Linked DNA regions of Homo sapiens: region 2 is linked to region 1. The links come from fine-mapping of genetic effects on gene expression. Tissue or cell type: macrophages after interferon gamma. Region 1 holds a variant in brackets; the other region holds the start of a gene. All regions are shown on one strand. Distances are from middle to middle.

What was found. PIP is the estimated chance that this variant, and not a neighbour inherited with it, causes the effect.
Region 2: it holds the start of TTBK2, and the variant in region 1 is fine-mapped to the expression of TTBK2 in macrophages after interferon gamma (Alasoo 2018, PIP 0.95).

What each region holds. Positions count from the first base shown.
Region 1 is chr15:42,995,610-43,000,897 of GRCh38, reverse strand. UBR1 (ubiquitin protein ligase E3 component n-recognin 1) reads left to right here. Exons shown (of 47, transcript NM_174916.3): 33 at 2,633-2,730. Among named protein-coding and RNA genes, the nearest start is that of TTBK2, 77 kb to the right of the region's middle. The variant G/AG (reference allele first, on the strand shown) is at 1,961.
Region 2 is chr15:42,918,756-42,924,043 of GRCh38, reverse strand. It overlaps TTBK2 (tau tubulin kinase 2), which reads left to right and starts at 3,266. Exons shown (of 15, transcript NM_173500.4): 1 at 3,266-3,606. RefSeq lists enhancers at 2,645-2,744, 2,947-3,447, 3,448-3,948 and a silencer at 3,265-3,674.

The DNA.
Region 1 (5,288 bases):
CATACCATTGCACTCCAGCCTGGGCGACAGAGCTACACTCTGTGTCAAAAATAAATAAATAAATAAAGAGTTGTTCTAATCTCTAATATTCCATGTCATTGATAAACCTAAATTGAAATTGTCTTCTTCAACGTATGTGGTAACATGAGAAAGAATTATCTTTGATTTGAGTAATTAATATATTTTAGGCATTTTACCAAGCAAATGCTGCATTATCTTATTTAATTATCACAGTAGTCCATTGAAGTAGGTACTGTTATTTCCATTTAAAGATAAGGAATTGGAGACTAGGGATAGTTTTTACTTGTCCCAAGACAGACCTAATATTCAAACCCAGACCTGACTCCAAAGCCTTACCTAACTATACAGCAGAAGACAAAGATAAAGGAAATCATAATAAAGTGACTTTCCAATTTCTTGTACAAGCCTTTTTTACACAGTGGCTCCCCCAAAATAGGATTATTAAACTATGTAAATTGTTCTCTAACAGAATATTTAGCTACTTCTTTCCTTGATGACTTTAAGGATCAGATGCTTCAGAGCAGTTCTTTCTAAATTCAGAAAACTGATCCTTAAAACTCTTAGAACTAGTTAAAGGTCTCTTAGAACTCTGGCACACTTTTAATCTATAGTAACAATTCTGTTACTCAGGATCTGAAATACATGATTATACATAGCAGTTTTATTAGATACTTCGACTTACCCATATAGTTGATTATATTTGCCTTTTTTGGATTTTAGGAAATCAGCATGAATATAATCTAAGATAGTAAAGATAAAAGCATATAAAAACTGTCAAAACTAAGATTTTGATTAAAAATGTATAATACAAACTTACGAAAAAATTTAAAACTAATAAACTGGTATCTGTAAAGAAAATTGGTTATAACCAGTCATAGTACATTTCCATTTTTTGAAAACAAAAAAAACTTCTTAGGTCAAATTTGTGCCCAGATAGGTAAATTTTGGCACAGTTCATTATATATTTTACCTTTGCTCAAGACTATTCTTTCAATAAAAAGATTCCTATTTTATTTTTAATAACACTGTTTCTAGTCCTTCTTGGTTTTTTTTTTTAGATAGGGTCTCACTGTGTGCTGGAGTGCAGTGGTGTGATCTTAGCTCATTTCAGCCTCAACCTTCTTGGGCTCAGATGATCCTTCCACCTCAGCCTCCCAAGTAGCTGGGACCACAGGCATGTGTCACCACACCCCACTAATTTTTGTATTTTTTGTAGAGACAGGGTTTCACTATGTTTCCCAGGCTGTTCTCTAACTCCTGGGCTCAAGCGACCCACTCACCTCAGCCTCTCAAAGTACTGGACTACAGGCCTGAGCCACTGCACCCAGCCCTTCTTTGTTCTTAATAACAGTCTGTCTCAAGTCCCTGTCCTTACGTCCATTTTAGGAAGGAGAGACTGGCAATAAAAAAATAAAACAAAATGTTGAGTAGTGAGGAATACTATGAGAAAGCTAAAGCAGTAGGTTAAAGGGCTGAAGACAGACTGGGGCATGAGGCTATTTATAGACAGAGTTGTCAGGGAGCTCTTCTCTGAGATGGTGACATTTGAACAGAGACCTGAATAAAGTGAGGAATAATCACTGCTTTTCTCTGGGAGAAAAAAATTCTAAGCACAGGCTATATCAAGAGCAAAGGCTCGGTTGGGTGTGGTGGCCCACGCCTGTAATCCCAGCACTTTGGGAGGCTGAGGCGGGCGGATCACGAGGTCAAGAGATCGAGACCAGCCTGGCCAACATGGTGAAACCTTGTCTCTGCTAAAAATACAAAAATTAGCTGGGCGTGGTGGCAGGCACTTGTAATCCCAGCAACTCGGGAGGCTGAGGCAGGAGAATCGCTTGAACCCAGGAGGCAGAGGTTGGTTGCAGTGAGCCAAGATTGTGCTACTGCATTCCAGCCTGGCGACAGAGTGAGACTCCATCTCAAAAAAAAAAAAAAAAAA[G/AG]CAAAGGCTCCAAGTTTGGAACCCCATGATCATGTTTGAGTCACAACAAGAAGGCAACATGGAATGGAGCAAGCAAAGACCAGATCATAAAAGGGATTATGAGCAAAGATTAGAAGTTATATGATCCTATTTACATTTTTAGAAAATTCTTCTAGCTGCTGTATGATGAATTCATACTTAAATGAAACACAAGAGTAGAAGCAGGAAGAACACTTAGGAGTCTATTTAAGTAATCCAAGTGAGGGCTGATGTGACTTGGATTAGGGGGTAGTAATGAGAGGTAGGAAGAAGTGATGAACTTGGGATATATTTGAAAGATAAAACCTGCAAGGTTAATTAATAGATTAGAATGTGGGGTGTGAGGGAATCAGAGAAATCAATGACAACACCTAGTTTTTGACTGGAGCAACTAGAATGGTGATTCTATTTACTGACATTTACTACCTGTGGGTGATTGGCATGTGGGTGGTGACTTATTTCTTGTAAGTTTAAAATTTCCTTCCCCTTCCAAAAAGCTACATTTTTAGACACATGTTTCTGTGACCTAGGAAATTAATCTGGAGGAACTCAACTTTTTTATATGACCATTTATCCAAGGAAATAATACAAATTCAGCTTTTCCATTTGACTTTGTACCCATGGTTGTAATAATTTTTAAATATCATTTTTCAGTGAGAATGCAGATGCTCTTGCTCAACTTTTGACCCTGGCACGGTGGATACAGACTGTTCTGGCCAGAATATCAGGTTATAATATAAGACATGCTAAAGGTTTGCTTAAATTTATTTTATATTAGCTATGTGAAGATGGTGTCAGAATCTTTATTTTTTTAAATAATTATTGGGCTAAAATATGGTTTGCAAGTACAGATTTCTTGAATATCAGGAAATAGAAGTTTTTGAAGCTAAAAATAAGTGGCTTAAATTGCTTTATTAAATTTAATCGTTTTTCATACTAGGAGACAATACAGACAGTGATTATACTATCAAGTCCATCTATCTGATTATTCCAAGCAGTCAAACTGCTTAGATTTAAATCTTAGATCCAAGATTCATCTAAATCACTAAGATCCACTTACTGATTATGTGATCTTGGGCAAGTTACTTAAGCTCTGTGTGCCTCAACTTCTTATTTGCAAATCGGGGATAATAATATTATAATAGTACCTATTTTATTGGTTGAAGGATTAGCAGAGTTATTATATGTAAAGTAGAATAGTCCATGGTACATAGTAAGTGCTACATGTTAGCCATTACTATTACTAATACTATTAATGTGTGGTTAGTAATGTTTGTAATAACAAAAACATTTTAAAACTATCATCTTATTTACATATTCTTTACAGTTGTGAGACAAGTATGGCTATTAATGGAGATGTGCTTAAAAGGATAAAGTGGGAATTTTTAAAATACAGTGAGGAAAAGTTGTCTTTTGTTTAGGCCAATGGTCCCCAACCTTTTTGGCACCAAGGACCGGTTTTATGGAAGACAGTTTTTCCTCGGATGAGGGGGATGGTTTTGGGATGATTCAAGTGCATTACATTTATTGTGCATTTTATTTCTATTATTATTACATTGTAATATATAACGAAATAATTATATAACTCACCATAATGTAGAATCAGTGGGAGCCCTAAGCTTGTTTTCCTGCGACTAGATGGTCCCATCTGGGGGTCATGGGAGACAGTGACAGATTGTCAGTCATTAGATTTTCATAAGGAGTGGGCAACCTAGATTCCTCACATGGGCAGTTCATAGTAGAGTTTGCGCTCCTATGAGAATCTAATGTGGCTGCTGATCTGGCAGGAGGCGGAGCTCACGCGACAATGCAAGTGATGGGAAGCGGCTGTAAATTCCGATGCAGCTTTGCTCACCTGCTGCTCACCTCCTGCTGTGCAGCCCATTCCCAAGGTTCCCAACAGGCCATAGACTGGTACTCGTCCATGGCCCTGGGGTTGAGGACCCCTGGTTTAGGCAGTGAAATCAGTAGGGTGAAGGCAAAGTCCAGTATTTAAAAAATTATCTTCTCATCCCCTCTTTGGATCTAAAATTGATGAAAACCATACCTAGAAAATATTCAAGAATATTTCTAGGTATTCTACTCAAAATATTTATGTCTTATTTCTACAATTCATATCTTTCTGTATTTATCCACATTTTCCCTGATTATTTTACCCTCTGTTGTGATTTAATTATGTCCTTTCAGTTACGTACTTTTAAGGAAAATGAAGGATGTATACAAAAGCTACAGAGGAAGAAATAGCGGTGATGGTTTTATTTCTCATCACCATAGTCTAAGTTACAAAGGTTTTTTGTTTGTTTTGTTGGGGGGGTTTGTTGTTTTTTTGTTTGTTTGTTTAGACAGGTCTCGCTCATCACCCAGGCTGGAGTACAGCTCACTGCAGCTTCAACTTCCTGGGCACAAGTGATCCTCCCACCTCAGCCTCCCAAGTAGCTGGAACCACAGGCTTACACCACCACACCCAGCTAATTTTTAAATTTTTTGTAGAGACAAGGTCTCGCTGTGTTGCCCAGACTGGTCTCAAACTCCTGGACTCAAGCAATCCTCCTACCTCAGCCTCCCAGAGTACCAGGATTACAGGCATGAGCCAGTGTGCCCAGCCTAAGTTATCATACAAAGTTTTATGTTCCCTGCCTCGTTGACCTCATATGTGTGCATGTTACGCAGTTAAGAATGATACAAGAGGAAATAGCATTAACAGCCAGATTTTATAGTATAAAACAATAGGACTCATAGGATTTTTAAGAAGGAATTGATCAGTAGGGGCTGAAGTAGTAAGGGAAGATGTCATGGAAAAAATGAGATTCGATTTGACCTTGTATAAAATTTGGATGTGTGGTAGGGATAAAGGAGAACCCAGGTGGAAAACAGAAATGTTTTTAGGGAACTGTGAGCATGGCATTTTCAGAGACATTGAAAAAGCCTGGCCTACCTTAGTTGAGAGTACACAGTGGGGAACAGTGGAGAATATGGGGCAGTTGTGGAGGTTTGTAAGAATTTGGACTTGGTCATGTAGAAACACAGAATGATGGAAGACAACAGTCAGCAATGAATGAGTCTGGCAACGTCCTGTCAGTTTCCCCTCCTCCTTCATTTTATAACAAAACCTTTACCACAAGTGCTAATGAGATAACAATCTGTTGGGTGGAAAACTCTTCTAACAAAAGAACTTATATTTGCTAAGAAGTGATTTTTGGCATGTACTTAACTACTTTGCTACTTGTTTTTTTTTGTTTGTTTGTTTGTTTTGAGATGGAGTCTCGCTCTGTCGCCCAGGCTGGAGTGCAGTGGCGTGATCTCGGCTCAC
Region 2 (5,288 bases), 77 kb after region 1:
ATTTTCCCAAGTCTTACTGTATTCGTTATCTCTTGCTGCATGACCAATTATCCCAAAAATTAATGCTTAAAGCAATAGTAAATATTTACTATATCACATAGTTTCTGTGATATAGTAACACATTTTAGAAGTGGCTTAGCTGGGTAGTTCTGGCTTGGAGTGTCTCACAAGGTGGTGGTTAAGAAGCCAGCTGGGCTTTCAGTCATCTGAAGGCTTGACTGGGGCTGGAGGATTCATTTCTAAGAATGGCTCACTAACATAGACGGCAAACTGGTGCTGATTATTGATGTGATGCTTCAGTTCCTTGCCAGGGGAACACTGCATGGAACTGCTAGAGTATCTTCAGGAGAAGACAACTGGCTTCTCCCTAAATAAGTGATCCAAGAACACATAAGGCAGAAGCTACAATGTCTGTTATAACCTGGCCTTGATATTCCCACACCATAATTTCTGGAAAATCCTATTGGTTACACAGGTCAGTCCAATTCAGTATGGAAAGGAATAAATAAGAATGAGAGTAAGTGAGGTAGGGATCATTGGGGGCCATCTGGAAGTCTGGCTACCACATTTATGTATTAGAGACAGAGTCTTGCGTTGTCACCCAGGCTGGAGTGCAGTGATGCAATCATAGCTCACTGCAGCCTCGACCTCCTGGGCTCAAGCAATCCTCCCACCTCAGCCTCCTGGGTAGCTGGGACTACAGGGGCCAGCTAATTAAAAATATATATTTTTTGTAGAGACAGAGTCTCACTATGTTGCTAGGGCTGGTCTCCAACTCCAGGGCTCAACAGATCCTCCTGCCTTGGCCTCCCAAAGTGCTGGGATTACAAGTGTGAGCCACTATGCTCAGTTTATTTCTTAAAAGAGATACATGCATATATATTTGAGTTTTATATATATACTTGAGATCTATCTATATCTATAACTCAAAGGGGATTCCTAAACTCCAGTACCAGCTCTTGAATAACATATTACATTGACATTTAGCCTGACTGAAAGAGTATCTCTGGGGACAGCTCAATAATTCTAAAATGGAAAAGACTGGAGAAAAGGGGAGGCTTTTATTGCTAAGCCTAATTTCAATGAATCTGGACATTTTTTCCCTAGAAACTTTTTTTTTTTCTTTTTTAAAGACAGGGTATCTCTGTTGCCCAGACTGGAGTGCAGTGATGCGATAATAGCTCACTGCAGCCTTGACATCCAGGGCTCAAGCAATCCTCCTGCCTCAGCCTCCCAAGTGGCTGGGACTACAGGTGCATGCCACCACACCTGGCTAATTTTTGTATTTTTAGTAGAGACAGGGCTGGCTAACTAAAAATTTTTTGTGTGTAGAGACAAGGTCTTGTTATGTTGCCCAGGCTGGTCTTGAACTCCTGGGCTCAACCGATCCTCCTGCCTCAGCCTCCCGAATAGCTGAGACTACAGGGGCATGCCACCATGCCCGGCTAATTAAAAAAAATTTTAAATCCATGCTTCCGTGATCATTTTGTGTGTGTGTGTGTGTGTGTGCAGAAGGAGTCTCCTTATGTCTCCTTACATTGCCCAGTTTGGTCTTGAACTCCTGGACTGAAGTGATCCTCCCACATCAGCCTCTCAAAGTGCTGGGATTGCAGGCATTAGCCACTGTGCCTGGCCCCTATAAACTTCTTTAATTTTAAAGAAAAATATTTACAGAAACCCTAATGTTTTCTTATTCAAATTATGTGATTGGTCAATACTCTGAAATGAATGAAGTACTCTATTAGACATAGTAATAGAAAAAGTAACGTGTGGTTTTAATCAGTAGAAATAAAAAACAATTTGGCAACATCTTTATGTTTGCATAGAACAAGATGAGCTGCATCATCACTTGCCTTTAATGTACATTTTGTCCTGCTTTCAATCCAAGGATCTGGACATGACAGAGAGTAGAGATGCCTGCTGTTTTTAAAAAGAATGGCAAGAGGCTGTGGCACTTCCTGAGCAAGAAGAAACAGATTCTATAGGAACAGTTCCAAGATTGAATATAGGATTAGTCATTTACCTTTCTATATTCTTAATCAGCTTTAATGACAATGTCACTTGAGTGAAGAAAAGGATTTAAAGTAAAAATGAAGTTCATAATTCATTACATTCTTTCCATTCATGGCAGAACCCTGGGGATCATTGTGATTCTTAAGTAGAAAGGACATTAGATGTGGGGCGTATGAGAGACCTGAGTTTTGGTTTTGCCACTGATTAGTTTATAGCCTTAGGAAAGCTGTTTAGCGTTTTTCATGTGTTTTCTCTACTGTACACTGGTGGGCAAAGATGGGAGAGGTGCTTAATCTTAAGGTTTTCCTTCGCCAAAGCGACTGACACAACACTAAATAGAAACGCATCCTGCACAGCGTCCTTGCTCCGCCCTCCTCGCTTTTCTTTGAAAGTCTTTGAGCACCTCCCGCATACACTTGCTCAGCATCGCATACTGGTGTGCACCGGGGCTGGCCATTGAGTCTTTAGCTGGTGGTGTTTCACAAAGGGAATGAAATCTTGTTCTTGGGTTGTGAAACCGTAAGGACACTCCGGTCTCCAAGTTGACATTCGTTTATGGAAGTGCCCATCTCCTTTCCTCGTCACACCTAAGGCCCTTCCCCAGTCCCCCAAAGATGATTAGCTTCACGTTAGGCGGTTCTGGGGACGGCGCCAATTTGCGGGATGCTGTCAGCGCTGATGCTGAGGAAGAGGATGGATCCTTAAGGCTTGCAGGGCCTCACGATTTGGGCCCTTCATCGCGACTGCCTCAGTGTGTAATTTCGTATCGTGACAAAGCATTTCCGATTTTATTCCGAAAAGCCCAACCATGGGGTCCCAACCATCCCTCTATAACCAATTTAACTGTCACGCTAGGAGAACACCTATGTGCGCAAACTACTTGTCTCGGAAGCCCTACTTCTCTCCTCGGGACAGGCGGGGAGTTGCGGCTATGGCTGGAACTACGAGGCCCAGAATTCCTAGGCGCATGCGCGCTGCCATTGTGATGCTCCTTTCCCGGTAACTCGCCCTCTCAGGCAAACCTGAAGATAGCGGCAATTCTCCGGTGGGGGGCGGAGACGGTTTCTGCCCGACTCTCCGCCCCCTTCGTGATAGGCAATGGGACTAGCCAACCGACGCTGCGAGTTCGGAACGCACTCTCCAATCAGCACCTGTAGCGGAGAGGTGGGCGTGCGCGCTGGCAGGGCAGGTGGGCTAGGCTGTGTCGGGTTACGAGGGGGGAGAATAACGTCGGGTCGGGTCAGCGGGCTCTGCAGTAGTCGCCGCAGCGGCGATGGGAGCGGTGGGGACGAGGCGGCGGCGGCGGCAGGAGGGGGAGCAGGTGCTGGCACAAGAGCAGCGGCTTGGGGGAGCCGGCAGCAGCAGTAACAGCAGCAGCAGCCGCCGCCGCCGCCGCCAGTAAACGCGGACGGTACCCCAGGGGACTACCCAGCCGGCCGGCCCTGGAAGCCGCGCTCGGGTCCCGCCGCAGTCGGCGGTGGGGGATGGGCAGGCAGTGGCGGTCCCGCCTGCCGAGGGTTAACCCCCGCCGGTCCCGGTCCTGAGCTGGACCAGAGCCCTCCTCCAGAAACCCCTGCGTCCGCCACGGCCCAGGTAGGACACACCCCCCGACCCCCCAGGGCGCCGCCCTCCCCCAGTCTCGACCCCCTCCTCCGGCCGCACCCCTCGCCGAGTGACCGAGCCTGCTGAGGAGGGGAGGGGTACCGGGGACTTTCAGTTCGCTGCAAGCCCGGGGCTCGTGCCAGACCCCGTCACTCTCCATCTCGGAGATCGTTCTGGTTCTGCCCGATTTCCCCGAAGGCTGCCGCCTCGTTTTGCCCCAGGCTTTGGGTGTCTTCACTGAACTTGGAGGGTCACGAAGCTTCGTTCTGCGTCTCTCTCTGTGGGTGACCCACATATCACTTGTACCCATGCCACTTCTGGTACCAGCACCGAACACGAAGGATTCCTAGGAAATCTGAGCGCTTATTTCCCACCCCGCCTCCCCAACTATCATGGAAAGGAACATGGGACTACTGAATCTGTTTGCTGTGTTGTAACGACAGTGAAGGCCGCGACTTTCTTGTACTTAGGGTGCTGAAGTAATGATCTGAGGGATTTGCTCGTCATTTGCTGTGGCAGAGATGATGTTGACACCCTGGGATGCTGTGGGAGGGACAAAAGACTCACGTATATGTTCTGTCAAATCGGAGAAGTAAATAATCCATTGGGATGCCAGGATACTTTATTCTACAGCGAAGTTAATTTTGTATCCGTCGAGGCTACAGTAGAGGTAAAAATGACATTGAGTTGTACTTTGCTTTGAATTAAAGTTGATGGGTAGCAGCAATCCTGGTATTAACTCTTCTCTCTCATCGCTTTAGAAATTATTCTTTCTTTGAACATTAAAGAGGACAGTTTTATTATACACTTCTAATAATGTGAAGATGTTTTGTAATTCAGTAGAAATTGAGTTTCTGTGTGTGTAGGAGGGTCATGTTATGAATGGGCACATGTAGACACACACGCAGAGGGAGGATCCACTCAGTGTGTTTTGTTAACAATGTTTGGTTCTGAGCCATTGATAATAGTTGCATTGGTATCTAAACCCTGATTTGCCACAGTATAACACAAAGATGTGTTGGCTGTGTACCTTTGGCTAAATGGAATAGAATAAAGTTCATTTGGGGATAGAAGGGGGAAATGATTTTAACTTATCAAGGGAATTGAATGCTATGTATTGCTTGCTTTATTTCCTTTTTTTTTTTAAATAAAGAAGCAGTAATGATGACAAATATAGCTTAATATGATTAATCTTGAGGCATTTGTCTGAAGTCAAAAAATGTTTCAAATAATGTGTGTGTTATATTGTGATCTATGCAAATTGAAAACATTGAAGGAAATCTTTGATTTAGAAGCTTATGTTTTCCTGTATGATAACATTTTATCAAGACACCGAAGGGGACATATGAAGCATGGTTTTAAAGGAAAGTTTCTCTTAACATTTTTCTTTTATGATAGAATGTTAGGAAATGCTTTCTTCCCTCTTCCAGTTTTAGACACAGAAGAAATTAAAGTCCATAACTTCATTAATTTAATATATAATATCAAGTTGATGCAAATTTGTACATTGGTTAGGGGGCTGAGAATAATATATCTTGCTCATTATCTTGTACTATGGTTAATACATAATTTAGTAAATTCTCTATTGCATTATATATGACTTTAGATTGTTGTATCTTCTTTTGATTTTAAGTGTTGATTATTTTAATACTTCAGGAAATCTTCAAGAGGTT